4 separate regions of the Homo sapiens genome follow, and regions 1, 3 and 4 are each linked to region 2. Evidence: fine-mapped expression QTL. A gene starts in region 2. Each other region holds a variant in brackets. All regions are shown on one strand. Distances are between the middles of the regions. Region 1 overlaps MANBA (mannosidase beta). Region 2 holds the start of MANBA (mannosidase beta). Region 3 overlaps NFKB1-AS1 (NFKB1 antisense RNA 1). Region 4 overlaps MANBA (mannosidase beta).

Region 1 (8,000 bases), 120 kb before region 2:
TTAGAGCTTATCTCTTTTACTGCATAGTTAAGTAAAGTCACATTATTAGCATTTTTTTTACATGTGTGAATTCCACAAAATAGCAGCAAAAAGAGACAGTGCAATTTAAATCGTGTTGGCTCCATTCCTCTTAAGTAGCCGAATAGCATATGCCCAGAGTGAGGATGCGCTGCTCCCCAGAGTGGGAGGGTTTGCAAACCTCTCTTTGTGTGAGCACGGAGCTGAGTGCAACCTGGTTTCTTAATCTGTGCATTTGTCATGCAACATCTCAGTCTTACATTATATGTTATGTGTGACATAAAGAATTTCAAAGGGCCATTTTCACTATATATAATTTAGCCTTACATATTTGTGTAATATGTTATCATTCAGGGTTCTGAGTTATACACAAGGAAACCTATATTGATAGAAGCAGAAAAGAAGCTTAATAAAGCGTATCAGGTTGCTCTTCAGGATCAGAGACTCAGGCTTGAATTTGGATGGCAAATTCCCAGATCGCACCGCCCAGCTGTTCCAGTGAAGGTCCTAAAGCAGCCACAGGAACAAGGTTCATGCGGCTCATGCCAGCCTGCCCAGGAAGCTGCCAGGGTAGCATCAGCTTCTGCTGCTCCAAGACCAAGGCCGAAAGAGATGCTGGTGTCATGCTTATGCTGGTTATCTTCGTTGGATTGGAAATCTCCTCTCTGTATGTCTGACTGCAGAGCCTGGGATTCAAGCTTGCACCCTGGCTTCAGGGAGACAGGGAGAACAAGTTTCTGGCATCTCCCTTGAGAAAAGAAGCCAAATACCTAGTCTATATTAGCCCCGAATTAAACATTAACTAACAGTATTATTACTATCATTTTATCTCTTTAAGAAGGACAAGTCTCACTGAAATCAAAATGAGATAGAACAAAGAAAGAGCCCTGCTTTTCTCCCACCCCAATTACCCACCTCAAGGTAATGAAGGCCTAACTCAGGAAAGAAAAAAATTTGGTTTTCAAAATCATAAGTTTAGAGACTGAAAATTCATCCAGTACATAGTGGTTTTTTTTTTCTTTTTTGGAAAAAAATATATGTAAGACTGTCATTTTCTTCTGTTCTCTATTAGTTGTTACAGATAACTTGGATTTTATTATGTGACTATAGAAAGAAGGTATGTTTTCAGTTGTTAGGCTCTTTCAAATAAAACACAAGAATTAGGTGTTTTTATATGATTATTTCTAAATTAAATGTAGAAAATCCCTTTCTATGAAGTAAAAGTGTAAAACAAATTTAAAATTTTCTAAAAACAGAGAATGTAACTTTCTAGAAAGATATTTCCTGAGTGTCCAGAAGATAAGATAATAAAATTAAAAACATATATGTGTACATATATTTCCAACTGCTATGTGTAGGGGAGAAGGAAGGAAAGGTTTTCAACCTACTAGACAAATTCCAAATTCTCCAGCTGCACAATTTTTATAACAACACATCCTGATCATCCCATTTTTATATCTTGGCAATTATAAAAAGATTTGGTGATTGAGCTACTTTGAAGCAATAAATCAAAGAGACTAGAGTGAATATTAATAGACTCTACTTAAAATTAGACTGCGTCAGCTGGGCTCCAATGCTTCCCAGCTACAGGACCTCGAGCTCATCACTTAACCTCCTAAACTGGCTTCCAAACTTACAAAATGCAGATGATAATGCCTGGAGCTGTGGTGAAAGTCAGAGACTATGAGGTGAAGCACCTAGAACACAGCCTGGAACCTAGTGGGCATGCAGGCAGTGGTGATGACTCGAGCTTCCTCTCCCATCACTGCACCTGCCCACTAAGGAGGGGTGATGGGACAAACGAGTAGTGGTCACCAGCAACTCTGACAAATCCTGGATTCGAAATAGAAATCATTTGGTGTTTGCTTTTAGTGGGAAGAGGCCAATCTTCCCCCAGGCCTCAGGTAAACTCAGCACCAAGGGGGACACATGCAAATCTCAGGATGCAAGGAGCTGGCCCAAGAGCAGGAGAACCCCACAAGGCCACAGTCCCCTGCCCTCCGCCATGACCTGTGCTTACAGTGATCTGCGCCTTGCAGAGCCCCACGGCCTCCTTCGGTGAGGACAAGAAGTGGTAGTTGGTCGGGCTCAGGAGTTCATGGTCAGCTGAAAGGTAAAAGGAAACCACACAGCTTTCCCGTGTGCAATTCCCACATCTCCTCAGCAATTCAGACACTGGCTCCTCATAAAGGCAGACAGCCTCTCCTCCTTTCATCACAAAACGTTCAGTCACACGAGAGCACACGGGCTCCAGGGAGCTCCATGTATGGACTCTCACCTGGGGAGAAATAAAACAGAATAAAAACAGGCATTCTTGGTTGCTATGTTTTTAAGGAACAATAGTAGTAATAATTGCTGAAAGTCAGGTTAGCAGAAATGGTTAAGAGACTATGAAACCTGAGTTTTAATCCCAGTCCTGCAAAATACTAGCTATGTGACTAAGTAACTTCTCAGTCTTCATTTCTTCATATGTAGAATGAAAATAACAGCAGTAATGTCACAGGCTGTTGTGAGAATTTAAAAAATAATCCACGGAAGGCACAGTACCTGGTGCGTTGTAATTTTTCTGTAAATGTGACCTATTTTCAGTGTTATTAGTGTCCTCCAAACTATAGCCACCTAAGACTTTGAGTTTCTAGCCTTTCTTTTTACTTAAATTTGTTTTTTAAAACAAATTTGCTTTCCACATGCGCATTCTGAATAGTTTTACTGATTTTCACTATAACATGCCATTTTTAACCATTTCTTTTTATAAAGTTTGGACTATTTCCAGCCTCTCACAATTATAAATAACCTTGCATTTAAGGGGCACATTATAGCATATGTGATTTGCTTTCATCTAGTTATTTTATTTCCTACTCATAGAAATCCTGTAAGAAGAGAGACTGGTATCATTTTACTGAGAAGAAATTGAATCAACAAGATGTGAAGGGTTTTGCTTATGGTCACATGATTAATGGCAGGGTTGTAGCCTGAATATATGTATTCTAACTCTAAATTAATTTCTCTTTTATTTTCCCAAAAGAATGTAACCAAACAACTAAAGAAATCATCTAAAAGTCTCCTTCGATCTTAGAAAACAATCCAAGTAACTTACACTGAGTGTCATCGAATAATC[C/T]GAGTGAAGATCTGACACACCATAGATATAGAACGTGTTTTCATTCTCAAAGCCTACTGGCAACAGTGGAGCAAAGAAATTCTGAGCAAAGTAATGAAGCATTTTCCACTTTCCTCCGTACTCTGAAAATAATCAAGAGTGTCAGGAGACGGCAAGGTCAAGTAGTCAGAGAGGCACTGTCCAATGGCCCAGCTGTTTGTGGCTCATCGGGGTTCTAAGGGAGTGAGCATGTGAGGGAGAGTCAACAGTGGAGGGCACCCATGTTTGTGAAGCGCTCTGAGCACTCTGGACATTATGTCATGTCACCCTCACAACATCTGGGCAGGCACTAACGAACCAGGGCAGGCATTAACGAACCATGCTGTTAGGCAATTTCATCATTGTGTGATCATAGAGTGTACTTAAACAAACCAAGATGGTATAGCCTACTACACACCTAGACTATATGGTATAGCCTGTTGCTCCAGGCTACTAACCTGTACAGCATATTGCTGTGCTGAATACTGTAGGTAATTCTAATCATAGAAATGGGACAGTGAAAATACAGTATTATAATCTCATGGGACCACCATCATATATGAACTGTGTTGTTGACTGAAATGTTATACGGTGCATGACTGTATATAATAACTTATAGATTCTAGGTAGCTATTGATTGCTTTAATATATAACCATTTCGGGTGATAAGAGATAACAAATACCTCCCCTACTGCACGCACTAGAAGCAGTGGATTTATTGAGCCAATCAACATGGGGCTGTGAGGCCCCCAGAGCAGAAGCAGATATAGAAAACTTGTCACAGCTTCTCCCGGATAACCTTTTTGTCTAATAAGTACAAGGAGCTGGTGATCCTCCTCAGGCAGGCAGGATCCTGCCAGGGTTTAGAAAACAGCCAAGCTCTGGTACTTGGGTTTTCCTACTGTAATATTATTATATATACATATATAATTTTTCTTCTACAGTTAGATATGGTTTGGCTGTGCCCCTACCCAAATCTCATCTTGAATTGTAGCTCCCACAATTCCCATGTGTTGTAGGAGGGACCTGGTAGGAGGTAACTGAACCATGGGGGCAGGTCTTTCCTATGCTGTTCTTGTGATAGTGAATAAGTCTCACGAGATCTGATCGTTTTATAAAGAAGGAGTTTCCTGCACAAGTCCTCTCTTACCCACTGCCATGTAAGAAGTCCCTTTGCTCTTCCTTCGTCTTCTGCCATGATTGTGAGGTCTTCCCAGCCATGTGGAACTGTGAGTCCATTAAACCTCTTTTTCTTTACAAATTACCAGTCTCAGGTATGTCTTCATCAGCAGCATGAGAACAGACTAATACAGGTTCCTAGCTCACAACTACCATAGCCCTTGTTACAGACTCTTGTTATAATGTTGAGAAGCTTTAGGACTCAAAAGCAGGCCTCAGAAAACAGAATCTATCTCTCTGATCTCCTTCCCTCCTTTCACCAGCCCAAGGCAGGTCTCTAATCCGATTGTGGGTCATAAGACACTCATTCAGAAGGTGTCCTGCCTCATACCCTGGAGGAGGAAATGCTTCACAGAGAGGCCAAGAAGCTGAATGGACAGGCCTTGCTGTGTTTCCCCACTCAGTCTAATGGTATTAGATCATACCCGCTTTGTCCAATCACATTTCTACATGGTTATCAATCATGGCTGTCCAATGAAGTCTCCCTATAACGCCCAAGAGGACAGAGTTCAAAGAACTTCCACATAGCTGACCATGTGAAGGCTGACAGAAAGAGGAACAAGTATTCATCTACATGCCTGGAGGGTGGCACACCCCAGCCTCACAGGGATAAAGTTCCTGCACTCAGGACCCTTCCAGACTTCACCCCATATATCTCTTCATACGGCTGTTTATTTGTGTCTTTTAAAACATCCTCTGTAATACAGCAGTTAGAATGTTTCCTTGAGTTCTGTGAGCCATTCCAGCAAATTAAACCCAAAGAAGGGGTCATGGGAACCCCAGCTTGAAGCTGGTCAGTCAGAAGTTCTAGAGGCCCAGACTTGCGACTGCTGTCTAAAGAGGGAAGGCAGCTTTGTGGAACTGAGTTCTCAACCTATGGAATCTGATGCAATCTGCAGGTAGATAGTGTCAGACTTAAATTGGAGGGCACTCGCATGGTGTCCACTGCAGAAGTGATTGCTTGCTTGGTGTGTGGGGGAAGTTTCCCATATATTTGGTCACAGAAGTCTTCTGTGTGGATTGTTGTTGTGGAGTGAGGGAATTAACAAAGCACTTTTAGGCCAGGTGCGGTGGCTCATGCCTGTAATCCCAACACTTTGGGAAGCTGAGGAGGGTAGACTGCTTCAGACCAGGTGTTCAAGACCAGCCTGGGCAACATGGCAAAACCCTGTCTCCAGAAAAAAAATACAAAAATGAGCCAGGCATGGTGGTATGCAGCTATAGACCCAGGTACTCAGGAAGTTGAGGTGGGAGGAAGGCTTGAGCCTGTGGGGTGGAGGCTACAGTGAGCCATGATTGCACCACTGCACTCCAGCCTGGGCAAAAGCAGAGTGAGACCATCTCAACAAAAAAACAAAACAAAACAAAAAACCACTTAGAGTTTGAGTGTCTTGTTTCCCACAGACCTACTCTTCCTGAGGAACTCAGGAATAATCTGCATGGGATCACTTAAAGGAATATTTACAAAAATTGGGCTCTCCCATTTCTTGAATCGAACTCAGTTTCAGTCCACAACCTCATCCACAGACAGAAAGCAGGATCAGTATCCAAGAGTCTCTGAACAGTTATCTCTTTGCCTACCTTTCCAGCATCCCAGAAGGATTTTCCCCCCAATTCTACCCCTGATTCTCATTCAATGCTCTCTTATCTGGTTGGTGCTGATAAAGAGTTTGGTCAGAGAAATTTGATTAGAAATCCAATTCTCTGTAAGAGTCATCCATCTGGCACTAATGAAAACATGTTTGGAATGAATTTCTTTTGATCTGCATTCACAGCCAGTTTAAGAGCCTCACCCCTGCACTCTAGCCTGGGTGTCAGAACAAGACTCTGTCTCAAAAAAAACAAAAAGAACCTCACCCAACCTTTCTACTTTGTGGCCTTGCCTCGTTTTTGACCCCAAACTATTCTTTACATTATTAACTGAACTTTGTTTCAAGTCATCTCTAGTGAAGGGCAAAGACTATTATTCCTTAATTTTTTTTAATGTACCAGAATAGATGGGATAATTCGAACTGCAGGTTCCATGCCAGTCATCTCACCTGTTGCTAGTTGAACTGTTTCAACTGGTCACCTTTCCCATTCGGGATTCTGCCTCTACTAGCTTTTCCCCAAGAGCTAAACAGGGCATAATAAAGATGGCCTTAAGAGACATCTTCATTATGTCCTTAAAGGACATCTTTATTTGTCCTTAAAGGTGAATCAGAGAAAGGGAAACTTTAACACATAAGCGGGCCAAACTTCTACCTGATTGAATTCTCCAACACAGAAGAAGGGATGCTTAAGTTCATGCTTCTTTAGCCCTGGAATGCCCTCTTAAATAAATTCAAAATTCTATGCGTAATAACAAGACACATGGCTGAGACTTTTGTATAGGAATCTATCCCATGCTTAGCCTGCTGTTGCAACTTTGCACAGCACAGAACCCATAATTAGGTTGACCCTAAGGCTCATGGAAAGGCTACTAAGGTGAGTTGGGTGGCTGTAGTTCCTAGGCAGGCTTTTTAAAGAATGACTCTTTTGGTCATAGTTCTGCCTGGGCTAATCTGACCCCTCCAGCACTGTGCTTTCTCAGTCCCTCTCCCCACAGTGTTGCTTTCTCTCACTCGCACAAAGAACGCTGAAATGCTTACCAAGAGAAGCCCAGGAAGGAGCTTGCCAGATGTCATTCAACTGCCAATAAAGTGCCCCCATCGTGTGCCCTTGCTGATCCACTATCTCGCTGCGACTACGGCGGTAGAATTCAGTTTCTGTTTTGACACACTGGGCCTGCATCACCTGATTCAGGAAAACATTCATACACAGGTGTTATTGTTTGATGTAGACTGCCTAGATCTGAGAAAAATACAGGGTTTAGTTTTGTTTTGGGTTTTTTCTTTTTGGAGCAATTTGGATAAAATTAGGGAATTTAATTAGTATTAGGAATACATTATACTAGATCTGTAACTAGCCCCTTAGCATGAGAGAAGCTGTTGTCTGTAACAGTGGGTTTGTCTGGTAGACTTGGTGTTTCATTATGGTGACAATGGAAATAGGATGGTGTAAAAGGTTCTCTGCTAATGATAGTGTAGGCCGTAAAGAAAAACAAAGACTACTATTCCAGAGCAAATGCTATATATAGTCCAAAACTAGATTATTTTCACTGAAAAATTTTGCTAATACCTTCATAGCTATTTTTAAGAAAAACTTTTACTAGAAAAAATTCTATAAGAAAAATAACATTGTTATTATGAGTCTGATATTATCCAATCCCTAATTATTTTTTCTAGTCAAACAATTGTTTTGATGTCATGATTTTTGGTAATGTAAGATTTCTCATGAATGCAATTCCTTCGTTGTAGCAGAACAGATGGCAAATTGCAGCAATGAGACAAATGAATTTAGTTCTTGTTTAAGAGACACTAAAGAACTTCACACAGGACCCTTGATTACCGACACCATCATGGAAAAATCAGTCTCTTTTATCGCTGCCGTTACCGACACATATGAATCACATGCTCTTAGCCTGGAGTTGTGCTGAGGAGGGGCTCATGAATGGACCACTGAGGAGAACCCAGAGATGGTCAGAGCAGCGAGGATTTCAGAGAACAAGAAGGCCTTAGAATAGGGCTGGGGTTTTCACAGAGGAATAAAAAGAATGGTGCATATGGCCACCAAAAGACTAAGTCGA
Region 2 (8,000 bases):
AATCATGCTACTATAAAGACACATGCACATGTATGTTTACTGCAGCACTATTCACAATAGCAAAGACTTGTAACCAACCCAAATGTCCAACAATGATAGACTGGATTAAGAAAATGTGGCACATATACACCATGGAATACCTTGCAGCCATAAAAAAGGATGAGTTCATGTCCTTTGTAGGGACATGGATGAAGCTGCAAACCATCATTCTGAGCAAACTATCACAAGGACAGAAAACCAAACACCACATGCTCTCATTCATAGTGGGAATTGAACAATGAGAACACTTGGGCACAGGATGGGGAACATCACACACTGGGACCTGTCATGAGGTTGGGGGCTGGGGGAGGGATAGCATTAGGAGATATACCTAATGTAAATGAGGTTAACGGGTCAACGGGTGCAGCACACCAACATGGCACATGTATACATATGTAACAAACCTGCACGTTGTGCACATGTACCCTAGAACTTAAAGTATAACAAAAAAAGGGAAAAAATAAAAAATAAAAATAAATAAATATATAAAACTGTTGGGGGCATTAGTCACATGAACAGCTGTCAAAAAAAATAGTGGTTATCTCTGGGAGTGATGTTTCCAACCTTCTTCTTACTTATCTATATATTTTAATGTTGGCATACAGAGACTATCTAAAAAAAAAAAAAAAAAAAAAAAAGAAGCAGTTGCTTCAAAACTTACACCAGTGAGAAATTCCACAGAAAAGCTGAGAACATTCCTAACAAGGGTCCCTTTATGTATGCACTTAACATAACATATGGAAATTATTTAGTTTTCTGCCTCACTAAAGTGGCCTCCCACAAAATAGGAACTATAGTCTCACTCTCAATTTCTTTTTTTATTCCTAATGCCTATTACACTGTGTGGCATAATAGCAGGCTGAGGGCCAGGCACGGTGGCTCATGCCTGTAATTCCAGCACTTTGGAAGGCCGAGGCAGGTGGATGGCCTGAGGTTGGGAGTTCAAGACCAGCCTGACCAACATGGAGAAAGCTTGTCTCTACTAAAAGTACAAAATTAGCCAGGCATGGTGGCACATGCCTGTAATCCCAGCTACCTGGGAGACTGAGGCAGGAGAATCTCTTGAACCCAGGAGGCAGAGGTTGCGGTGAGCCGAGATAGTACCATTGCATTCCAGCCTGGGCAACAAGAGCGAAACTCCGTCTCAAAAAAAAAAAAATAGCAGGCTGAAGGAATAACTTTTCACAGAGAACCCAAAAGACTCTCTAAGAAACCAAAGGTTTAGATTCTGTACAGAAAACCCAGAGAATCACCTAGGAAATAGCCAAGACTAGCCACAGAATCTCTCACTAAATACAAATTTCATTTAACCAGCTCAGATAAAAAAAATCCTGGTATTTTCCTGCACCTCCCCCTTCTGTCTCCCAATCCATTAACAAATCCAACTGAAGAAATCCTCTTGTTTCTACATGTAAAACGTGTTCTCACAACCATTCTCACCATTTCACTGCCACCATGCTTGTCCAAGCCAGAAGTCATCTCTTGCCCATACATAGACCAGCAATAGTCCCCTGGTTGGTCTCCAGGCTTCCACTCTCCTGCACTGTAGCCTTCACACAACAGAGTGACCTTTAAAAAGGCAAATCTAATCATGCTACTCTAAGCTCAAAGCCTCCAATAACTTCCCATCACATGTAGAATAAAAGCCAAAGTGTTTCCTATGGCTCACAGCCTTTCATGATGTGCCCTAGACTTTGAACTCCTCTCCTACCCTCTGGTTCCCAGGTCTCCAGCCACACTGGCCTGCTGACTATTCCTGAAACTTGTCAAGCTCGTGCCTGCCTCAGGGCCTCTATCCTCCCCACTCCTGTGTTTTTCCTCTTTGCTGGAAATGCACTTCTCCTTAAAAGTGACCTTTTCAAACAGGTCTTTTTGTTTAGAAGTCACCTTATCAAAATACCTATCTTGAACCACTTTTTAAAAAATAGCAATGCTTTCCAACCAGCCTTCACTGTCTCTTCCTTTAACCTGCTCAATTTTTCTTCAGTGTGCCACCTGCCTTACATTATTTATTAATTTGGTATATATGTCTATCTCCTCCATTAGAATGTCCATTAGGGAAAGGACTTTGTTTTCTTTACCACTCGATTTCAAGTACTTAGAATAGTGCCTGCCACATTAGAGGTACAAAATAAATATGAGATAATTAACTAGGTGAATAGATAAATAAATGAATGATATCACCAAGATATGTTTCAAGTTCTTACACAAACACAATATTTGGCCCAGTGTCTACTATAAACGGTAGAATATTTCCTCAAGTCAACACCAAAAAGGGATGTTATAATAAAGCAGGTCGGACAACAGTCTCACATTACTGAATAACGATACTGATCTGATGTTGATGATTGCTTCTTTACTTTTTTTCTTTTTTTTTTTTTTTTGAGAGAGGGTGTCACTCTGTTGCCCAGGTTGGAGTACAGATCACGGCTCACTGCAGCCTCAACCTCCTGGGCTCAAACGATCCTCCCACCTCAGCCTCCCTCGTAGCTAGGACCACAGGTGTACGCCACCACGCCCAGTTAATTTTTTAATTTTTTGTAGAGACAGGGTCTCGCCAGTTGCCCAGACTGGTCTAAACTCCACCTACCTCTGCCTCCCAAGTGCTGGGATTATAGGCATGAGCCACTGTGCCCAGCCTGATGATTATTTTCAACAGGCCTTGTGTTTCCTAAGCCCCAAAAGCCTTCCCATTTCTCATTCCACTGCCATTTGAGACCCATGGCCACCTGATTGAAACCTCAAGGTTTTGCTAAGAATTTATGAAGAGAGTTAAGAAATCTCTTCAAATTGTTCCTATGAGGAAGTTATTTCATACTATGAGCAAATTCATTTTCATTAAGTATCTGTTGTAACCAAACGTTGTTTCTTAGCTTCTTAGCTCTGTAATATGGCACAATAATCTGACTTACTGAAGCCACTCATTATTTCCCATTGGCTTAATTCTTTCTTTCTTTTTTTTTTTTTTTAGAGATAGAATCTCTCTATGTTGGCCATGCTGGTCTTGAACTCTTGGCCTCAAGAAATTTTCCCACCTCGGCCTCATAGACTCTTTCTATGTTGGCCATGCTGGTCTTGAACTCCTGGACTCAAGGGATCCTCCTACCTTGGCCTCCCAAAGCTCTCACGTACCAGCACCCATTGGCTTAATTATTTCAGTAAAATCAGGCAAGGAGGAACCCTACAAAATAAACACAGGCATTCTCAAAGCAGATATAAGTGAAAACTCAGAGTATACTGTGGTCAGCTGTGTTCTCTATCACAAGTAGTTTGTCAACTTAAAATAAAGTACTAAAGTTTGGGAATGATCTACTCTAAAAATACATCGGACAATGGTCAATGTCATTTACAACATTCACCTCCTTTCTGATACACATCTCAGGAAAAAAAAAAAAAAAACTACTAAGTACCAGGTCAGAAATTTGGCACAACCCTAGATGACCACCTTGTCATGCAAATAAACTTAGAATGGTGCTCCTGAAAGTCAGCCACAGTGCTTCAAAAACACATGATTTTTTAAAACACCAAACTAAGCATACCACATAGTATAGAGACCAGGCTATGGAGTTGAGACCACCTGGGTTAGAATTCCATTTCTTTCCATTTAGTTGCTGTCACCTTCCTAATTTCTCTGTGTTCCATAATTCCATATTATCCATAAAATTCAGATATGAACACTTACTATACAGAGTTGTTATGAGGATTGGACAATGTATGCATCCCACAAGTAGATCAATTACAAGTACATTTTGCCCCAAGTAAAGACAACACGTGGGAACGCTGTGCAAGAGGGAACAGCAAAAGCAGTTGGAGGATGGAAGTCAGTTTGCAAACCTATGCGCACAGGCAGCCAAACACGAAAACGTTCCCCACAAGTAGTCTGTAAATTGGAGACTCCATTGGGATACACACACACACACACACACACGCCCTGAGAGGAAATAGCACCTTTCTTCATCACCAAGTTAGCCTTAAAAATTATTTACCCGTTGTTAGCCACACTAGCACTGACAAACCCAACTTTACTCTTGTAGGTCATTCTCCACAACGTCTGTGCTGCGTCAATCCCAAATCTGACTCCCTGACGCTTAACAGCGAAAATAAAAAACCGAGACATTACTCAATAGAGTTAACCCTTACTTAACAAAACGCTGTTGTCCCCTGTGGCGTGCAGACAGTAGAGACAGTAATTCCCGACCTTATGCTTGTCAGTGACGGCATGCCCTTTGTATACACGCTTCAGTAGAGAACGACTGCAGTAAGTAAACTGCTAGTAGCAACACTGTTCCCCTATCTAAACTTCCCCTTTCCAGAGTTACTGATGTCCCAACATGGGTCGGTCGCTCAGTCTCCGTCAAGCCCGTACCCCATAGCTTGGGCATTTCCCCCCGCAGATCACAAGATGCAAAGGGGAAGTTACTACCAAACCGACGAGAATGGCCCAGAGCTGGGGGCTGCCAGGCGGTTCCTGGGCCCCTCTCAGCACCAGAAGAAGGCGGGCGCAGGCTCGCCGCGGGTCGGCCGCACGCCATACCTGGATCAGGCCCTGCTGGAACAAGGCGCTGTGCACGCAGCCAGGGACCGCCCCGGGCAGCTCCAGCGAGCCGTTCCCATTGCAGATGCTCCAGTTGCCACGCAAGCTGTAACTGAGCTCCGCGGCGGTGGTGCCTGCACCGCACAGCGCGAGCAGCAGGAGCAGGTGGAGGCGCATCTTGAGATCCCGCGCCACCGAGATGTGGAGAGATCGAAAGGCAGCGCTGCAAGGGACCGGCGGTGAAGCCACTCACCCCCTCGGAAGTAGCCGAGGCTTTAGGTCCCCGCCCCGGCCCCGCCCCTAGGTCAGCTGAGCGCTCTCCGGGCGCAGCCGCGGGCGGGAGGGGAACGAGGAGGCTGCGCCTGCACCCGCTGAAAGCCGGGCGTCGCGGGTGCGGGAGCTGCAGCCCCCGAGAATAGCTACAGGCTGGGGGGCATTGCGGTCTGAGCCTTCCCTCGGCGCTTCTTCCCGCCGCCTCAGTACATACAACTGGAGGCAAGAATCTTGCACGGTAATTGGGACAGAAAGATCCCTGGGCGCGCAGTGGCACAAAGCCTCGGGAGATCAGAGACCGACTGTACGTGGAGACCATAGCTGGAGAGTCCCCTCACTCCTTCAGAGAACCCAAACTGGGAGACAACCCACCACTTCCCTTCCGCCAAATTTACACAGACCCTCGTCTACCTGGTAGCGTAACACTCACCCCGCTGCAGCTCAACTCGCGGGTCTCAGAGCCTACCCCGCCCTTCAAAGAGTAAACAAGTACTAGCAGTATCTCCATCAGAAGGTTGTTCTGAGGGCTAACCAAGAAAATGCGACTATAGCATGCAGCATGGAGCCTGGCCCAGAGAAGGCATTCACGTTAGCTATTGTTACTAGCGGCCTGCGTCCTTATGTTTCATAAAGCCCCACGGAGGTTTCTGAGGTTCTGGAACCTGCACTAGGCGCGCAGCTGAGTTTAAAATCCTCTGCACTCACTAGCTGTGGGACCTGGGCAAGCCGCAAAATCTCCATCTCCGTTTCTTGAAGTTTTCAAGGTGTTATAAGTATAAAATGAGTAAACATATGTGATCGTCCCTAACAATGCCAGAGTACCCAAGAAATACCACTGACTTATTTCGGGTCTTGTAGTCAAATGGTCTACCTGAGTCCCATTTTTGCAATAGGATGTAACAGTAATCCTAGAAGTTAAGACGGAATTTTACATTGCATAAAATAGACTGCCTTTCTCCTGTGTTGACGCTATCTGCCGTATATTTATGCTTCGGAAGAAGTCCTTGAAAAGAAATTTTCTCTCATCAAATCTGAGCTTTGTTTCGCCTTACAATGGCCTTGGAATTGCCTGATTCTGCAGACACCGGGCAATATCTTACTTTGCAAAGTCAGCATTATTTACAAGCCCTGAATATCTTGGCTTAAAGGACAGTATGGATTATCCAACCCAAGCCGCTGGCTTTACAGATGAGGGAACTGAGTTCAAAGAGATCGGGGCCAGGCGCGGTGGCTCACGTCTGTAATCCCAGCACTTCTGGGAGGCCGAGGCGGGTGGATCACTTGAGGTCAGGAGTTCGAGGCCAGCCTGGCCAACATGGTGAAACCCTGTCTCTATTAAAAATACAAAAATTAGCTGGGCGCGTGGTGGCACGTGCCTGTAGTCGCAGGTGCTCGGGAAACTGAGGCAGGAGAACCGCTTGAACCCAGGAAGCAGAGGTTGCAGTAAGCCGAGATGGCACTACTGCACTCCAGCCTGGGCTATAGAGAAAGACTCTAAAAAAAAAAAAAAAAAAAAGATCAGGTGACTTGCCTGTCACATAGTGGCAGACAGGATTAGAACCCTCCTCTTCAAGGTCCTACTGTCAGAGCCCAATGATGCTATAGGGGAAACGCTCTCACTGCTTCAAAGCCTTCCTCACTCACTCCAGAAGCATTTTTACCTTTGATAGAAACAAAGCTCTCAATTCAAATTATATGCCATAATTCACGGCATTAAATGGCTAGCCATGGTCTGTGCAACACTGATAACACAAGGTTTATGGCAACAAGAGCGGCAAAGGAATTTTTTCATAATTCCCAGAGATTTCATTAAGCCAAATCAGAGGAAAATTCATCCTTGATGATACATATGGATATATTCTGTTTATTAAGAAATATAATTTTTAGAAAAACAATAATAGAAGATTCTCATTCCTCCTTTCATTCCAGGATGCAAGCATAACATCATTTAGGTTACTTCACTTTGACAACAGAGAACATCAAAGAATAATCAAAGCCCTAATAAGTACTCTTCCTAAAATTGCAATTGGCACAGATGACATGATGTTTTCATTTTGTTATAGGATAATTTTTGTCCATGATTTTCTGGTAAATAAACCTTATTTAGAGATAACATAAAACTTCTCAACTTATGTAATTTAAAGTCATGATACCAAATGCAATGTTTAAAATAGTTATGGGTATCTTTAACTTACACTGTATAAACAGATTTCATTTTGATCATTTCATTTGATGCTTCCCAAAACTTGAATTATTTAGAACAAGTGATCGTTCCCTGGTTTAAAAAGATAAATAATGCCCACGGTGATTAAATGATGTGTAGGGTCAGTATCCTGTCACAACAGACCAATGGAAGTAGTTAGGCCCTTTGCTATATGACAACATTTCCTTCATATCTAAATATATAAAATTGGTAAACTCATTAGAACACCATGGTATATACCAAGGCCAATGATATTCCAATCCCATGATATATTACAGAAGTTATAATAAGGGAAAGAAAATGAAAGAGTAATCAGATGTGGAGTGGACATTTGCCTTTAGACTCATAGTGTCTGATTAAACCCCAGGACTGGGGATAATAGCCCATAAGTATCCTGCCCAAAGGTTTGACATACTTCCCCAGAGTTTGAAGCCCCAAATGTTAGAACAAAGAGAGAAGGTAGTGGAAACTATGTACACCACTAGAATTTGGTGTGTCAAGGATGCATATGCATGAGTTTCCTATAAACCAAGAGGACACCGTAGGAAGTAACCAGGCTTGAGCCAGTATAATGGGATTCTACCCAAGAGAGTCCAAGAAGTCAACTAGAGGACACATGGCCTATGTCAGCAAACTGTGTATATATATACATATACTGTATATATACATATATACATATACGTATATATATACATATACTGTATATATACATACATACATATACTGTATATATACATATATACATACATATACAAATATATATTTTAAATATATATAATTTATATAATAATATAAATATATAAAAATATATAATATAATTATATTATATAATATAATTATATAATTAGGAATATAATATATTATATTCCTAAATAATGCATGGGTCAAAACAATAATAGATTTCCAATTTCTGGCCTGGCATGTAAGGACCTTGGAAGTCATCACTCTATC
Region 3 (8,000 bases), 270 kb before region 2:
TCAACCATAAAAAGTAACAAAATAATGGCACTTGCAGCAACCTGGATGGAATTGGAGACCATTATTCTAAGTGAAATAACTCATGAATGGAAAACTAAACATCGTATGTTCTCACTTATAAGTGAGAGCTAAGCTATGAAGACACAAAGGCATAAAAATGATACAATGGACTTTGGGGACTCAGAGGGAAGGGTGGAAGAGGGGGTGAAGGATAAAAGAATACACGTTGGGTACAGTGTACACTGCTTGGGTGATGGGTGCACCAAAATCTCAGAAATCACCACTAAAGAACTTATCCGTGTAACCAAACCCCACCTGTTACCCAAATACCTATTAAAATATTTTTTAATTAGAAGAGGAGAGAACACTTTTCAATTCATTCTAAAATGCTAACATTATCCTAAGGCCAAAACAAGATAAAGACATTACAAGAAAATAAAACTACCGACAAGTATCCTTAATAAACATAGATGCAAAAGTGCTTTACAAAATTTTGGCAAATTGAATTCAACAATATATAAAAAGGATAATATGAATAACAGCTGGGAGATATCCTAGGAATGCAGCATTCATTTGACATTCAAAGATCAATGAATTTCAATATATTAACAAACTAAAAAAGAAAAATAATATGACCGTATCAATTCAGGCAGAAAACACATTTGACAAAAGCCAACACATTAATGATATTTAAAAAAAAAATCTCACCCAAGTTGAAATAGAAGGTAACTTCCTTATCCTGACATAGGACCTCTACAAAAACTTAGATCAAACATCATACTTAATAGGAAAAGATTTAATGCTTTTCCTTTAAAATTGGGAATAAAACAAAGATGTCTGTTTGCACCACATCTATTGAACATTGTACCAGTGATTCTAACTGGCGCAATCAGGCAAAAAAAAAGGAAATAAAGGGCATCTAGGTTAAAAAAGAAGTAAAACTATTTTATTCACAGATGACATGATCATCTAGGTAGAAGATCCAATCAAATTTACAAAAAAAAACCTACTAGAGTAATGAATTTATCAAAGTAGCAAGATGCAGGATCCATAAATAAGAATCAATTGTATTTCTATATATTAGCAATGAAAAACTGAAATTAAACATTAAAATTGTATTTTATTTTTCTGAGACAGAGTCTCACTCTGTCACCCAGGCTGGAGTGTAGTGGCGTAATCTTGGCTCATTGCAACCTCCGCCTCCCAGGTTCAAGTGATTCTCCTGCCTCAGCTTCCCAAGTAGCTGGGACTACAGCTGCACACCATCATGCCCAGCCAATGTTTGATTTTTTTTTTTTAGTAGAGATGGGGTTTCTCCACATTGGCCAGTCTGGTCTCAAACTCCTGACTTCAAGTAATCTGCCCACCTCAGCCTCCTAAAGTGCTGAGATTACAGGCGTGAGCCACTGTGCCCGGCCTTAACATTAAAATTTTAAAACACTATTTAAATAGCACTAAGAATATAAATACTTAAGGATAAATCTGACAAAAGATGTGAAAGTCCTAAATAGAGAAAAACATACAACACAACTATGAGAAATTAAAGAATGTCCAAGTAAATGGAGACACATACCCTGTTCATGAGACAAAAAACTCATTATTATGATAGCAGTTCTTCCCAAGTTGTTCTGGAGATTTAATGCAATCCAAATCAAAACCCTAACAAACTTATTGTAGAAATTGACAAGCTGGTTCTAAAATGAATTCAGAAATGCAAAGGACCTAGAATAGCCAAAACAACCTTGAAAAAGTGAACAAAGTTGGAGGACTAACACTTCCTGATTTCAAGACTTATTGTAAAGCTATAAAGTAATCAAAAAGGTGTGGTATTATCATATAGATAGAGAAAAGATCAATGGAACAAAATAGAGTCCAGACATACAGATACAACTGATTTTTAACAATTTGCAAAGGCAATTTAGTGAAGAAAGGATAGTTTTTTTTTTCAACAAATGCTGCAGAATCAGTTGGAAATCAATAATCTAAAAAGAAAAAACTTCAATCCATATCTTGTACCACTATATGCAAAACTTAACTCAAAATGTATCATAGACCTGAATTTAAGTCCTCAAACTACAAAAGTTCTAGAAGAAAATAGAGGAGAAAATCTTAGTGAGTTTGAGTCAGGCAAAGAGTATGTGGATACAACACTGAAACCACAATGCAGTAAAAAACTGACAAATTATACTTCATCAAATTTAAAATCTTCTCTGCAAAAGAGGATGAAAAGACAAGTCACAGGCTAAAAAATATGTATTTGCAAATCATATATCTGGTAAAATACTTTTATCCAGAATATAAAATGAACTCTCAAAATTCAATAATAAGAAAAAAAATACACCAAAAGTAAACAAAACATTTGAACATGCATTTCACCAAATGGCAAATAAGCACATAAACAGATGCCCATCATCATTAGTCATTAGGGTAAAGCAAAGTAAAGCACAATGAGATACCACTAAACATATCAATTGAGACGATTAAAATAAAAAAGACTGACCATACCAAGGATTGCAAATATATGAAGGAGCTAGAACTCTCATTTCCTGTAGTGGGAATATAAAATAATATACTCTTTGGGAGAACAGTCTGCAGTTTCTTAAAAAGTTACATGTATGCTAACTATACGCTCTAGCCATTTCACTTGTAGGTATTTCCCATGACAAAAGAAAGTATATGTCTATATAAACAGTTAAATAGTTACACACAAATGTTTTAGTGGTTTTATTAATATATCCCAAAACTGGAAACAACCTAAATGTCTATGAACAGGAAAATGGATAAATAAATTGTGACTATCTATACAATGGAATGCTACTCAACAATAAAAAGGAATTAACTACTGATACAACAAGGTGGATGAATTTTAAGATAATCATGCTCAATGAAAGAAGTCAGATAAAAAATAGTACCTACTGTATGATTCCATTTATATGAAACTCTAGAAAATGCAAACTAATCTATGACAGAAAGCAAATCAGTGGTTGCTTAGGAATGTGGAGGAGTGAGGAATGGAAATGAGGAACTGCAGAGGGCCATGAGAAAACTTTTCAGCTGATGCACATGGTCACTGTCTTTATTATGGTGATGGTCTCATGGGTATATATATATATCAAAAACAACTCTCTCTCTCTCTCTCTCTCCAATCCCCCAACCCCATCTCTTACAACAAGAAAGTATGTCCCTAGTATATCTGGAAGCCATCTTTTGACCAAGAGAAAAGCCAGCATGAGGAAAC[TGTTAACACA/T]GGGACAGAAGAAAAGAAAATGTCTCTGAAGGGAAGAGAGCCAGAATTGTGATTACATTAAACCTAAAGATTTTCAACGATGTGACCTGATGAAATTCCATAATGGTTAAGTCATTTTGAGTCATAATTTTACATCTTTTCACCTTAGGTGAAAAGCATCCTAACCAAGATAAGTATATGCTCAGCATTATATTGATAATTTATAATACGCCATTGGAAAAAAACTCTCTTCCTGGCATTTAATTATATTACTTATTTCAAAGAAAATGCAGTAAAAAACTGATCTGTATATCTACTGATATGTCTATCAGTAAAACAGATAAGTATATCTATGTATACCTACTATGCATAAGCCTTACAGGTGCTACATAGAGGTGATATCTGTTGTTTATACTCTTTGTCTTCCCTTCTTCCTTTTTTTGATAACAGTGCCCCAATTTACGCTTAGCTAACCATAATCTAGCATTACTAATTCATGTCTTCCAGATGAGATAGACCCTCCTTGTCACTAAAAGTAGACATGTGACTCACAGCATTGTAAGAAGATAGTAATGGAACACAGGTCCCCAAATTTACCCTCCCAATCTCTTCTCAATTACTTTCCCCAACAAGAAAAAATGCTACTGCAGGTAAGCAGGGGCATCTAAAGCAGGGTCACTTGAGGTCACAGGCTCCAGGGTCTCTAAAAGGAAAGAGATACTCTCACTCTTCTCTGTTTTAGGTAGTCTGGAGGGCCTTGTTATAGAAAGACTTAAAACAAAGGTCTCAATTTTATGGCTTCCAGTGAAAGTTAGCCTGAGGAAACCTATGAATGCCTTCAGGAAAGCATTACATGGGCTTATTTGTGTGTGTTCTTGGGAAGGTCAGACTAATCTGGGTAGTGACAGGTCATATGGAGGAACGCTGCACTCATGGAAGAGTTGCTTGTAGCCCCTGAGGTTAGGCAAGCATTCTCCCTTGCACCCAGGGAGCTCTGGGAGAAGAAAGACTTTTTTTAAAGCTTCAGCTGGGTGTGGACAGATTGCCAGTTGGTTTACTGCCAGCCCACAAAAGCAGAAACCTTTCCCCTGGCAGGTTTGCCACTGCATAAAAGACCCTAACTACTTGTCCTGTAATTATAGGTCAGTGTATACAGAGCCTGAGGTCTGAACAGGAAATGGAAAATAATAACTTGCCCTAGTAGTACTAGCAAGCCAGAGAGGAAAACTAAGATAAACACTTCAAACAGGTGTTTTGTTGAAATAGAACTGTTAGAAGAGCCAGGTGAAAACTTTTCTAAAAAGTAATAAATTCACTCAAGAAGATATAATTAAAGATTAGGAGTTAAATATATGATAGATGCTAGAATGATAAAATATACATATTTTAAAAATAGGTAATGACTCCATGTGTTTCTGACAGTATACCCTTCCTGGTTGAAATAACTAAAATGAAATAACTAATGGAAATAACTGAAATGCTACATAACATATTTTTAAAAATTAATACTGCTTAGCCGGCATGAAATTCAGGAATCTAAATATTTCCAAAACTGAAAAACTGGAGGGAATAGCTGAGAAATTGACTTAGTCTGTTTTGTGTTGCTATCACAGAAAACCACAGACTGGGTAATTTATAATGAAAAGAAATTTGTATCTCACAGTTCTGGAGGCTGGGAAGTCCAATATCAAGGTGCCAGCATCTTGTGAAAGCTTTCTTGCTACATCATCCCATAGTGAAAGGCAGAAGAGCAAAAGAGCAGACACTCAAGAGAGAAAGTAACCTACTCCTACAATAATGGCATTCATCCATTTATGGGGGTAGAGACCTCATGACCCAATCAGCTCTCAAAGGTCTCACCTCTCAACACTGTTGAATGGGGAGTTAAGTCCCAACACAGGAACTTTGGGGGACATGTTCAAACGATAACACTGCCTATCTAGTCCTTGTCACTGGACAGAAAAAGAAGAAATTCTCACCTGTGAATTCATAACCACTTACACTATATGTGATGATCAAAAGCACACAAGTAAAAAATTTTATTTAAGGTTTTTCCAAGTTAATAGTATACCAGATAACAGGCAAAAAGAAGCACAAATATTCCTTACTCAATTTTAACCTAAGCTTCAAATAATTTCCAGAGATTGTTTCAAGAAACGTAAGCAATTTATTATTTATAATTCAGTTGACATATTAAACAGCATATGAAATATAGCTGAAAAGAGAATTGATAAACTAGAAGGCAAATATAAAGAAATTATCCAGAATGAAATCCAAAGAGATAAGAGATATTAAAAGACACAGAGATTAGATTGAGAAGATCTAACATATACCTAATTTAAATTCCAGAAAACAAGTCTAGGGAAAATGAAAGAGAGGAAATGTTACAAAAGATAATGGACTAGGAATGTAACTGTTGAAACATCAAATCTTGAGACCCAGGGAGCCATATAACATGCTTCCAAAATCCAAGCTTATTATATTAATATACAAAAACATTAATATTAATATTATATATTAATGTTATTGTTAATATAATCATTATATTATTAAACATATAATTTATACATAAACAATATATTATATATAAATGTATATGATATATAATATACAATAGTTATAATATATAATAAATTATATATTGACTTCTATATAATATAGAATTATATAACTTATAAATTATATATAGCTTTATATATAAATCAATAATTATATATTGATGTGTACAATTATTATTTTATATTATTATTAATAATTATATAATTGGTATTATATAAATATTAATTTTATATTGCAATAGTTATAAAGTAAATATCATATAACATTATTAATATAATAAATATAGTATATTAATATTAATAACTTGTATTTATTAACAATATATTAATAAATGACATAATTTCACATTTCTTTCAGATTTCTGTAAAAGCTTATCAGGAGTTATATATATGCAAAACCATATTTATCTTATTAAAGAGGCATGTATAAGTGTCAGACCATCACTTATGAATAGATTTGACAGCCAGATATACAACCTTTCAGAAAACAGAAGCAAACCTCCTCCATAAAAACAAGTAATTGGCAGCTGTCTCAATGATGTCCAGTAACTAGCCTTATTTCACTCAGAACAGTTTTGTCGGCTTCATATAGCATGACCAATCACCCTGGTTTACTAGAGCCTGAGGGTTTCCTGCGCAAGGGACTCTCTGTGCTAAAAGCAAGATAGTCCTGGATCAACCGGGATGAGTTAAGTCTCTATTTCCATGCCTTCATAGAAATCATTAAAAGATATCTCTCTGTTATGGGCTGAATAATGTCACCCACCCTGAAATTCCTATGTTGAAGTCCTAACCCCCAGTACCTCAGAATGTAACTGGATTTTGAGATAGGGTTTTTAAAGAGGTATATAAGTTAAAATGAGGACAGTGGGATGGGCCCTAATCTAATATGACTGATGTCCTTATAAGACGAAATGATTTGGACGTGGACACAGAGGGACAACCACATGAGGACAGGGAGAAGATGGCCATCTGCAAGCCAAGGAGAGAAGCCCTCAAGTAAACCAATGCTGCCAACACATTGCTGTTGAACTTCCAGTCTCTAGAACGATAAAAAATATTTCTGTTGTTTAAGCCACCCAGTCTGAGATATTTTGTTTTGGCAGCCCTAACAAACACATTCTCTAAGGGTTTATTCTCATTTTTGGTTTAGTGTATTTCAGCTGATGATTATAGCCTAATCCTCCCCCTCTTCTTGGGGCCTCTCTTCTCTGTACTCTTCCTCCTCATATCTCACACAGGCAGATTTGTTCCTGCCTCCTCACCTACATTACGAGCTCCGCACAGTCTCCTTTCTTCTGGCTCCGGCTCCCTCATTAATCTTTCTGTTATTAACGCTATTAACTCGTTAAACTATCTCTCCACCTTTCCAAACTTCCATTAACTCTGGCACTCCATAAGTGTTAGTCAAATAAATGAAGAATCACACTAACTCCTCTTTCCTTCCCTCTCACTCCAAACTCTTGGTGAGATTCTTTTGCACTTATGCCCTCGTTTCCCCATTTCCCACTCACTTGTCAGTCTCCTCATTCTTGGTTTTCCTCATTATATTGAAACACATCTGAAAAAGTCATGTAAGACCACAGCCACTGCGTATCAGTGCTATTTGAGAGTTAATAAAGTTCCCTTTTCCTCCAAGACAGCGAGCAGAGTGAACAGAAGAAAGACTGGTTTCTGCCCTTGGCTGCACAGCCATGCCCCGAGGCCGGGCTTAGGATTTTATAATTCACAAAGTCAACTGTCTCTTCCCCTCTCCATCCTTTAGGAACTGTCTGCAGTATCTGACACTGTTGAGAGCTCTCATACCCTTTAAACTCTCTCTTCTCTGGCTTTCTGAGCTTTCCTCCCACTTTTGATGGCACTGCAGGAGTTTTTAAGCATCTCTCTCTCATACCAACCCCAGAAATAAAGTCATTCCTCGAATTCCTGTACTTAGCCCCTTGTCTCCTAACTCTTTGACCACTAATGTTTTAGAAACACTCTCCTGACAACTATCGCATCTTTGCAGTTGTTTCCATTTCCAACGCCATGTCTCTCTGAGCAGCAGCCTTGAGTTTTCAATTGCATATTTATTAGTCATTTCCATATGGACATCTCACTAAATCTGTCATACTAAACATGTCTAAAATATGTATGTTTACATGTTACATGTATGTTTGGTATGTGGGAATGCATTACATTCCCACAGATTTTTTCCCAGTTACAGTGTTACTATT
Region 4 (8,000 bases), 55 kb before region 2:
TATTTAGGATAGTTAGCTCTTCTTGTGGAATTTATCCCTTTACCATTATGTAATGGCCTTCTTTGTCTCTTTTGATCTTTGTTGGTTTAAAGTCTGTTTTATCAGAGACTAGGATTGCAACCCCTGCCTTTTTTTGTTTTCCATTTGCTTGGTAGATCTTCCTCCATCCTTTTATTTTGAGCCTATGTGTGTCTCTGCATGGGAGATGGGTTTCCTGAATACAGCACACTGATGGGTCTTGACTCTTTATCCAATTTGCCAGTCTGTGTCTTTTAATTGGAGCATTTAGTCCATTTACATTTAAAGTTAATATTGTTATGTGTGAATCTGATCCTGTCATTATGATGTTAGCTGGTTATTTTGCTCGTTAGTTGATGCAGTTTCTTCCTAGTCTCCATGGTCTTTACATTTTGGCATGATTTTGTAGCAGCTGGTACCGGTTGTTCCTTTCCATGTTGAGTGCTTCCTTCAGGAGCTCTTTTAGGGCAGGCCTGGTGGTGACAAAATCTCTCAGCATTTGCTTGTCTGTAAAGGATTTTATTTCTCCTACACTTATGAAGCTTAGTTTGGCTGGATATGAAATTCTGGGTTGAAAATTCTTTTCTTTAAGAATGTTGAATATTGGCCCCCACTCTCTTCTGGCTTGTAGAGTTTCTGCTGAGAGATCCGCTGTTAGTCTGATGGGCTTCCCTTTGTGGGTAACCTGACCTTTCTCTCTGGCTGCCCTTAACATTTTTTCCTTCATTTCAACTTTGGTGAATCTGACAATTATGTGTCTTGGAGTTGCTCTTCTCGAGGAGTATCTTTGTGGCGTTCTCTGTATTTCCTGAATCTGAATGTTGGCCTGCCTTGCTAGATTGGCAAAGTTCTCCTGGATAATATCCTGCAGAGTGTTTTCCAACTTGGTTCCATTCTCCCCGTCACTTTCAGGTACACCAGTCAGACGTAGATTTGGTCTTTTCACATAGTCCCATATTTCTTGGAGGCTTTGTTCGTTTCTTTTTATTCTTTTTTCTCTAAACTTCCCTTCTCGCTTCATTTCATTCATTTCATCTTCCATCACTGATACCCTTTCTTCCAGTTGATCGCATCGGCTCCTGAGGCTTCTGCATTCTTCACGTAGTTCTCGAGCCTTGGTTTTCAGCTCCATCAGCTCCTTTAAGCACTTCTCTGTATTGGTTATTCTAGTTATACATTCGTCTAAATTCTTTTCAAAGTTTTTAACTTCTTTGCCTTTGGTTTGAATTTCCTCCTGTAGCTCGTAGTTTGATCGCCTGAAGCCTTCTTCTCTCAACTTGTCAAAGTCATTCTCCGTCCAGCTTTGTTCCATTACTGGTGAGGAGCTGCGTTCCTTTGGAGGAGGAGAGGTGCTCTGCTTTTTAGAGTTTCCAGTTTTTCTGCTCTGTTTTTTCCCAATCTTTGCGGTTTTATCTACTTTTGGTCTTTGATGATGGTGATGTACAGATGGGTTTTTGGTGTGGATGTCCTTTCTGTTTGTTAGTTTTCCTTCTAACAGACAGGACCCTCAGCTGCAGGTCTGTTGGAGTTTGCTAGAGGTCCACTCCAGACCCTGTAGAAACCACTATTTTTAAGGACTAAGAATACAGAAAAGAAACATAGATATATACATATATATAAGTAAATGAATTCACAAGAATTTCACGTTAATTTTTAAATGTTTAATAGCCTTCTTTCTGTCATACACAAGTTAGGGAACTATGGTTGGTCCTTTGATCTTCAGGAGTAAACTCACTAATTTTAAGTCAAGATATAAATTGAACACTTGAAAAAGCACAAAGATGACAGTATCTCTTTCTAGCCTCAACAGGGGGAAGGCAGAAAGTGTCCCATAGACAAATTAGTTTAGGCTTTCATATCAAGTTAGCTGAAGTTACTAGACTAAATTAGTTTGTTTTAATAACTACTTTATCCACTTACTGCATATACATATATATAACAGATGCCCAATATAGAAATTTAGAAAAGACAGTTACACAGAAGAATAAAATGCAAACCATTTTTAACACTACTACAGAGATAGCTACTGTTTGCATTAGTTGTTGTTTGTTTACTTGTTTGTTTGTTTTTGAGACAGGGTCTTGCTTTGTCACCCAGGCCAGAATACAGTGGAATAATCATAGCTCGCTGCAGCCTTGACCTCCCAGGCTCAAGTAATCCTCCTGAAACTGCCTTTGCAAAGTTATAACTGAGGAAATTATGACAATGAAAGAAATCAGACCTAATCTACTCCATCTTGCTTGTAACATTTAAGCTGTTCTTATTCATTCCTGGCAGTAGGCTGAACTAACTTTGGGAAGGAATTCAGTTCATGGTTTGACTCTGAAACAAAATGGATAGCAGCCCTTTCCCGAAAAGACCCCTTCTTGCCTGGGGACGAGTCTGCCTTTGCAGGACTAACAAATTAGCTACAAGATTAGAAATTACAGTTTAGGGGTCATGCAACCTCTGGCTCCAAGAGTCTGAACCTCCCCAAATTGCTCCTGGGGATAACATCACTATTGTAAAACCTAGATCAGTGCTTGAGATATTCTGCAGACCCTGCACTGGATGGATCAGCTGACACCACCCAGACTGGTAATCTGGCTCAACCAGTTCTGCCATCCCACTCAGGAAAGAAGACAGCAAGAAAACCTTACTTCGTTCCCCCTATGATTCCATCTCCAACCTGATCAATCAGCACTCCCCACTTTGCAAGCCCCTACCCACCAGATTATCTTTAAAAACTCTGATCCCACCCAGCATGGTGGCTCACGCCTGTAATCCCAGCACTCTGGGAGGCTGAGGCGGGTGGATCACAAGGTCAGGAGATCAAGACCATCCCCACTAACACAGTGAAACCCCATCTCTACCAAAAATACAAAAAATAAGCCAGGCGTGGTGTCGAACACCTGTAGTACCAGCTACTCGGGAGGCTAAGGCAGGAGAATCACTTGAACCTGGGAGGTGGAGGTTGCAGTGAGCCAAGATCGCGCCACTGCACTCCAGCCTGGGTAACAGAGCAAAACTCTATCTCGAAAAAAAAAAACCAAAAAATTTGATCCCAAATGCTGAACGTCTGGGGAGACTGATTTGAGTAATAATAAAACTCTGGTTTCTCACACAGCCAGCTCTGCCTGAATTACTCTTTCTCCGTTGCAATTCCCCTGTCTTGATAAATCAGCTCTGTCTAGGCAGCAGGCAAGGTGAATTTATTGGGCGGTTATAATCCCACCTCAGCCTCCGAATACTTGGGACTACAGGCATATACCACCACACATGGCTAATTTTTTTTATTTTTTGTAGAGACAATGTC[T/A]GCTCAGGCTGGTTCAAACTTCTGGCCTCAAGTGATCCTTTGAACTTGGTCTCCCAAAGCGCTAAAGATTACAAGCATGAGCCACCACGCCCAGCCTTGCATTAGTTTTGACCCACCTCATTTCACACTTAAATTTTAAAAATGAATACATTTTATTTTAAATAAAAATTATATGTACCTTTTTTTATTATGAACTAAGCTTTTTTAAAAATTTTCAGTAACTCTCACAGTGCCTGCCTCATAGTATATACCAAATAAATACATAAAAGTATCCAGACCACATTAGCTTATTCTTTTATTATTTTTCAATGTTTAAACGTCTATTGATATCAGTGATAACTGCTGTCTTCCAGATAAAAATTGAAAAAAAAAATTCTGGAGAAACTCCTAAAGGTAGAACTCTTTTAATGCTCTCATGAGCTTACACTCTAATTTTATTACATCAAACAACCAAATTGATAACTATAAAATTAATTAGAAATATAGGAATTACTGCTTAACATGCACAAAGCACATCTTCTTAACAGGAAACATATATTTCTCTATGTTAAGTACAAAATATATTACTGTCATAATATTTCAAAAATGAGGGAGGAGCTTCAAGATGGCTGACTAGCGGCATCTGGTATTTGCCACCTCCACAAAGAAGAACCCCTTCAGATAGATCACCTATCAAAAAACACTGAAATTCAACAGAGAAGTGACAGAAAACACCTAAGGTAAGGAAGGAGAGAAAAGGAAGGAACCCTGCTTAGCAGGGACCAGCTGAAAGCCTGGAGAGGCTCCCCAATGCTGGGAGAAGGTAAGTGAGTGGCCTCCAGTGGTCTACATTCCCATTATGGACTCCTGCAATCCTAGCCATGAGAGAGCACCTCCACCCTCGCAGCCCCCAGGACTAGTATAGGGAGCTACAAGATATGCAATGGCATTGCTCCAGAGAGGGAGCTCCTAAGCGGTTAAAGCAAGGCACCATTTTGAGAGTCTAGCCCCGAATGGACTGCAGGCTGACTTTGGGCTTAATAGCCCCTACATCTCCACATTCCTGGAGACTTACTGACATCCCCAAGTGTAGCCAGGCACTGCTGCTGGCTGCTGCCACCAATGCTGAAGCAACTCCACCCCCTCAGGAGCAGGGCTGCTGCACATTTCAAAACACCCTGTGGAAGGGCTACCCTGCTTATCTCCACTACCTGGAGCGAAAGTGCATGCTCTCCAGTCACCTATAGCTACTGCCACTGAAAGCAACCCCATCCTCCCCAGGAGCAGGGCAGCAGCACAGTCACTACTGCCCCCACCCAAGCATTCCACCAGTGGTCTGGATATCATCCTATGCCTGCCTACCACAGCCAGCTCCCACATGCACCACTAGAGGGGTCTGAGGACAGGCCTGCCCTGGCTCTACACTCCCACTCAGTGCCTGAGCAAATGGTCTGGAAGCCTGGGGATGACCCTGCCCCATCCACCACTGTTGGTACCTCAGCACTCCTCCCAGGAGCCTGAGGACAGGCCCACTAAACCTGCAGCTACTACCACAGCTAACATCTGCCTGCATGTGCCACCTACGGGCCTGGGGACTAGTGTGCCCAGCCTGTTGCAGCCACTGTCAACACCAATGCAGACTTCTTGGAAACCAGAGGATTGTCCTGCCACTGCTACTGCCATTTCCCATGCCATACCTGCTGTCCAGGGGCCTGAAGACCCAGCCATCCAGACCAGTGGTCTACCACTGCCACTGCCAGCACCCAAGCAGGCCAGTCACCTGGAGGCCCAAGATTCATCATGCTTGGACTCACTAACACCAGTGCCAGCATATACTGCACTGAAGCCCAAGGACAGGCACACTCAGCCTGCTGCTGCCACCAGTGAAGTCCAAGGACTGGCCTTCTTGATGACCCCATCCCCAGCAAAACTTCACTACAGCCTCCACTAACAACTATACCCTAAGCCACTGAGGAAATCACAAACACCACTGATGCTGTTTACAGCTGAAGAAATCAAACAGAAACTATACTATTGCAAGCACTCAAAATCAAAGCAAAAGTGCCCTACCCAAACAATACCACAGATACATCTTCAGGAAAAATTCCTCCCCTATAAAAGAGAATTCAAAAAAATTAGAAGAAGTGGTTGTTATACCAGATGCGTGGATATAAACATGAGGACACAAGAAACATGCAAAAGCAAGGAAATATGACACTTTCAAAGGAACACAATAATTATCCAACAACAGATTCCAATAAAATGTATGAAATCCCATATAAAGAATTCAAAATAAGGAAATTAAAGACATTCATTGAGATGCAAGATAACTCAGAAAAAAAAAGAAATCAGAAAAACAATTCAAAGTATCAATAAGAAATTTACAAAACAGACAGATATAATAAAAAAGAACCAAACATAAATTCTGGAACTGAAGAATCTAGTTATTCAACAATAATTAGAGAAAGCAGAAGAAAGAATTTCAGAACTTGAGGACAGATTTTTGGAAGTAAACCAGTCAAACAAAACTTTTTTAAAAGAATAAAAAAGATTGACAAAAGACTACATGACATATGGAATACCATAAAGTGACTAAATATTCTAATTTTCAGTGTGCCAGAAAGCAAACAGAAAATTACAAAGAGAGAAAACCTATTTAACAAAATAATAGCTGAAAACTTCCCAAGTCTGGCAAGAGATTTAATATCTAGATAAAAAAATCTCAGAGATTCCCAAACAGATCCATTCAATAAGGCCTTCTCCATGGCACATTACAGTCAAACTGTCAAAAGTCAAAGACAAAGAGAGAATTCTAAAATCAGCAAGAGAAAAGCACCTAGTTACTTATAAGGAAACCCTCATCACACTAACAGCAGATCAGATTTTTCAGCAAAAACGTCACAGGCCAGGAAAAAATGGAATGATATATTCAAAGTGTTGAAAGAGAACAGCTCCCAGCCAAGGATGCCATACCCAGCAAATTTATCCTTCATAAATAAAGGACAAATCATCTTTCTAAGACAAGCAAAAGCTGAGGGAATTCATCACCACTAGACCAGACCTACAAGAAATGGTTAAGGGAGTTCTACATATGGAAGCAAAAGGACAATATCTACCATCATGAAGATACATAAAAGCATAAAACCACTGGTTGAGTAAACACAAATGAGGATCATAAAGGACCCAAATGTTAACACTACAGAAAAACACCAAACCACAGTGATAAACAATAATAGAAACAAAAAAAGGTATACAAAACAACCAGAAGTCAATTAATAAAATGACAGGAATAAGCCCTCATATATCAATAATAACCTTGAGGGTAAATGAATTAAACTTTCCACTTAAAAGATATAAATTGACTGACAGGATTTTTTAAAAACATGACCAAACTATATGCTGCCTACAAGTAGCTCAACTCACCCCTAAAGACATACATGGACTGAAAGTAAAGGAATGGAAAAATATATTCCATGCAAATGGAAATAAAAATGAGCAGGCATAGCTATATCAACATCAAATAAAACAAAGTTTAAGTCAAAAAACAGTAAAAACAGACAAAAAAGGTCACTATATCATGATAAAATGATCAAATCCACAAGAGAATATAATAATTCTACATATATCTGCACCCAACTTGGAGAACCCAGATTCATGAAGCAAATATTACCAAATCTAAAGACAGATAGATTCCAATACAATAATAGTGGGGGATTTCAACATCTTACTCTCAGCATTACACAGATCATCTAGACAAAAAATTAACAAAGAAACACTGTATTTAAGCTGTACTTTAGACCAAATGAAACTAATACACATTTAAAAAATATATTATAGCTACAAAATGCACATTCTTCTCATTAGCACATAGCATATTCTCAAGAATAGATAATATGTTAGGCAAAAAAATGACTCAACAAGTTTTTAAAAATTAAAATCATATCAAGTATCTTTTCAGACCACAACGGAATAAAACTAGAAATCAATAACAAGAGGAACTTTGAAACCTGCACAAGCACATGGAAATTAAACAACATGCTCTGAAATGACAATTGGGTCAAGAAAGAAATTAAGGAGGTAATAAAAAAAGTCTTGAAACAGATAAAAATTGAAGCACAACATATTAAAACCTATGGAATACAGCAAAAGCAGTGCTAAGAGGGAAGTTTATAGCAACAGATACTTACATCCAAAAAGTAGAAAGATTTCAAATAAACAACCTAACAATGCTCCTCAAGGAACTAGAAAAACAAGAACAAACTCAATCCAAAATTAGAAGAAGAAAAGTGATAATAATGATCAGAGCAGAACTCAATGAAATAGAGACAAAAAAAACAGCAAAGGATCAATGAAATGAAAAGTTTGTTTTTTGAAAACAAGATTGATAAACCCCTATGTAGACTAATCAAGGAGAAGACCCAAATAAACAAAATCAGAAAGTTGTACTTTAGACCAAATGAACCTAATACACGTTTACAAAATATACTAATATTTTGTATATTATTATATACAAAATATATATATGAGAAATGAGAAAGGATACATTACAACTGATACTACAGAAACACAACAGATCACCAGAGACTATTATGAACGACTATACGCTAACAAACTGAAAAACATAGAGAAAATAGGTAAATTCCTGGACACATACAACCTGCCAATACTGACTGACAAAAAAATAGAGGCCAGGCGCAGTGGCTCATGT

What was found.
Region 1: its variant is fine-mapped to the expression of MANBA in whole blood (TOPMed, PIP above 0.99).
Region 3: its variant is fine-mapped to the expression of MANBA in whole blood (INTERVAL, PIP 0.96).
Region 4: its variant is fine-mapped to the expression of MANBA in whole blood (INTERVAL, PIP above 0.99). The same link has a PIP of 0.9 or more in CD4 T cells.

What each region holds. Positions count from the first base shown.
Region 1 is chr4:102,632,750-102,640,749 of GRCh38, forward strand. It overlaps MANBA (mannosidase beta), which reads right to left. Exons shown (of 17, transcript NM_005908.4): 14 at 6,964-7,108; 15 at 3,116-3,258; 16 at 2,039-2,296. Among named protein-coding and RNA genes, the nearest start is that of MANBA, 120 kb to the right of the region's middle. RefSeq lists enhancers at 4,874-5,374, 5,375-5,875. The variant C/T (reference allele first, on the strand shown) is at 3,137.
Region 2 is chr4:102,756,145-102,764,144 of GRCh38, forward strand. It overlaps MANBA (mannosidase beta), which reads right to left and starts at 4,824. Exons shown (of 17, transcript NM_005908.4): 1 at 4,574-4,824. The coding sequence starts at 4,750. RefSeq lists an enhancer at 4,419-4,768 and a silencer at 4,859-4,988.
Region 3 is chr4:102,489,717-102,497,716 of GRCh38, forward strand. The region is part of intron 1 of NFKB1-AS1 (NFKB1 antisense RNA 1); the gene reads right to left. Among named protein-coding and RNA genes, the nearest start is that of NFKB1, 7.6 kb to the right of the region's middle. The variant TGTTAACACA/T (reference allele first, on the strand shown) is at 3,239.
Region 4 is chr4:102,701,061-102,709,060 of GRCh38, forward strand. The region is part of intron 5 of MANBA (mannosidase beta); the gene reads right to left. Among named protein-coding and RNA genes, the nearest start is that of MANBA, 56 kb to the right of the region's middle. The variant T/A (reference allele first, on the strand shown) is at 3,314.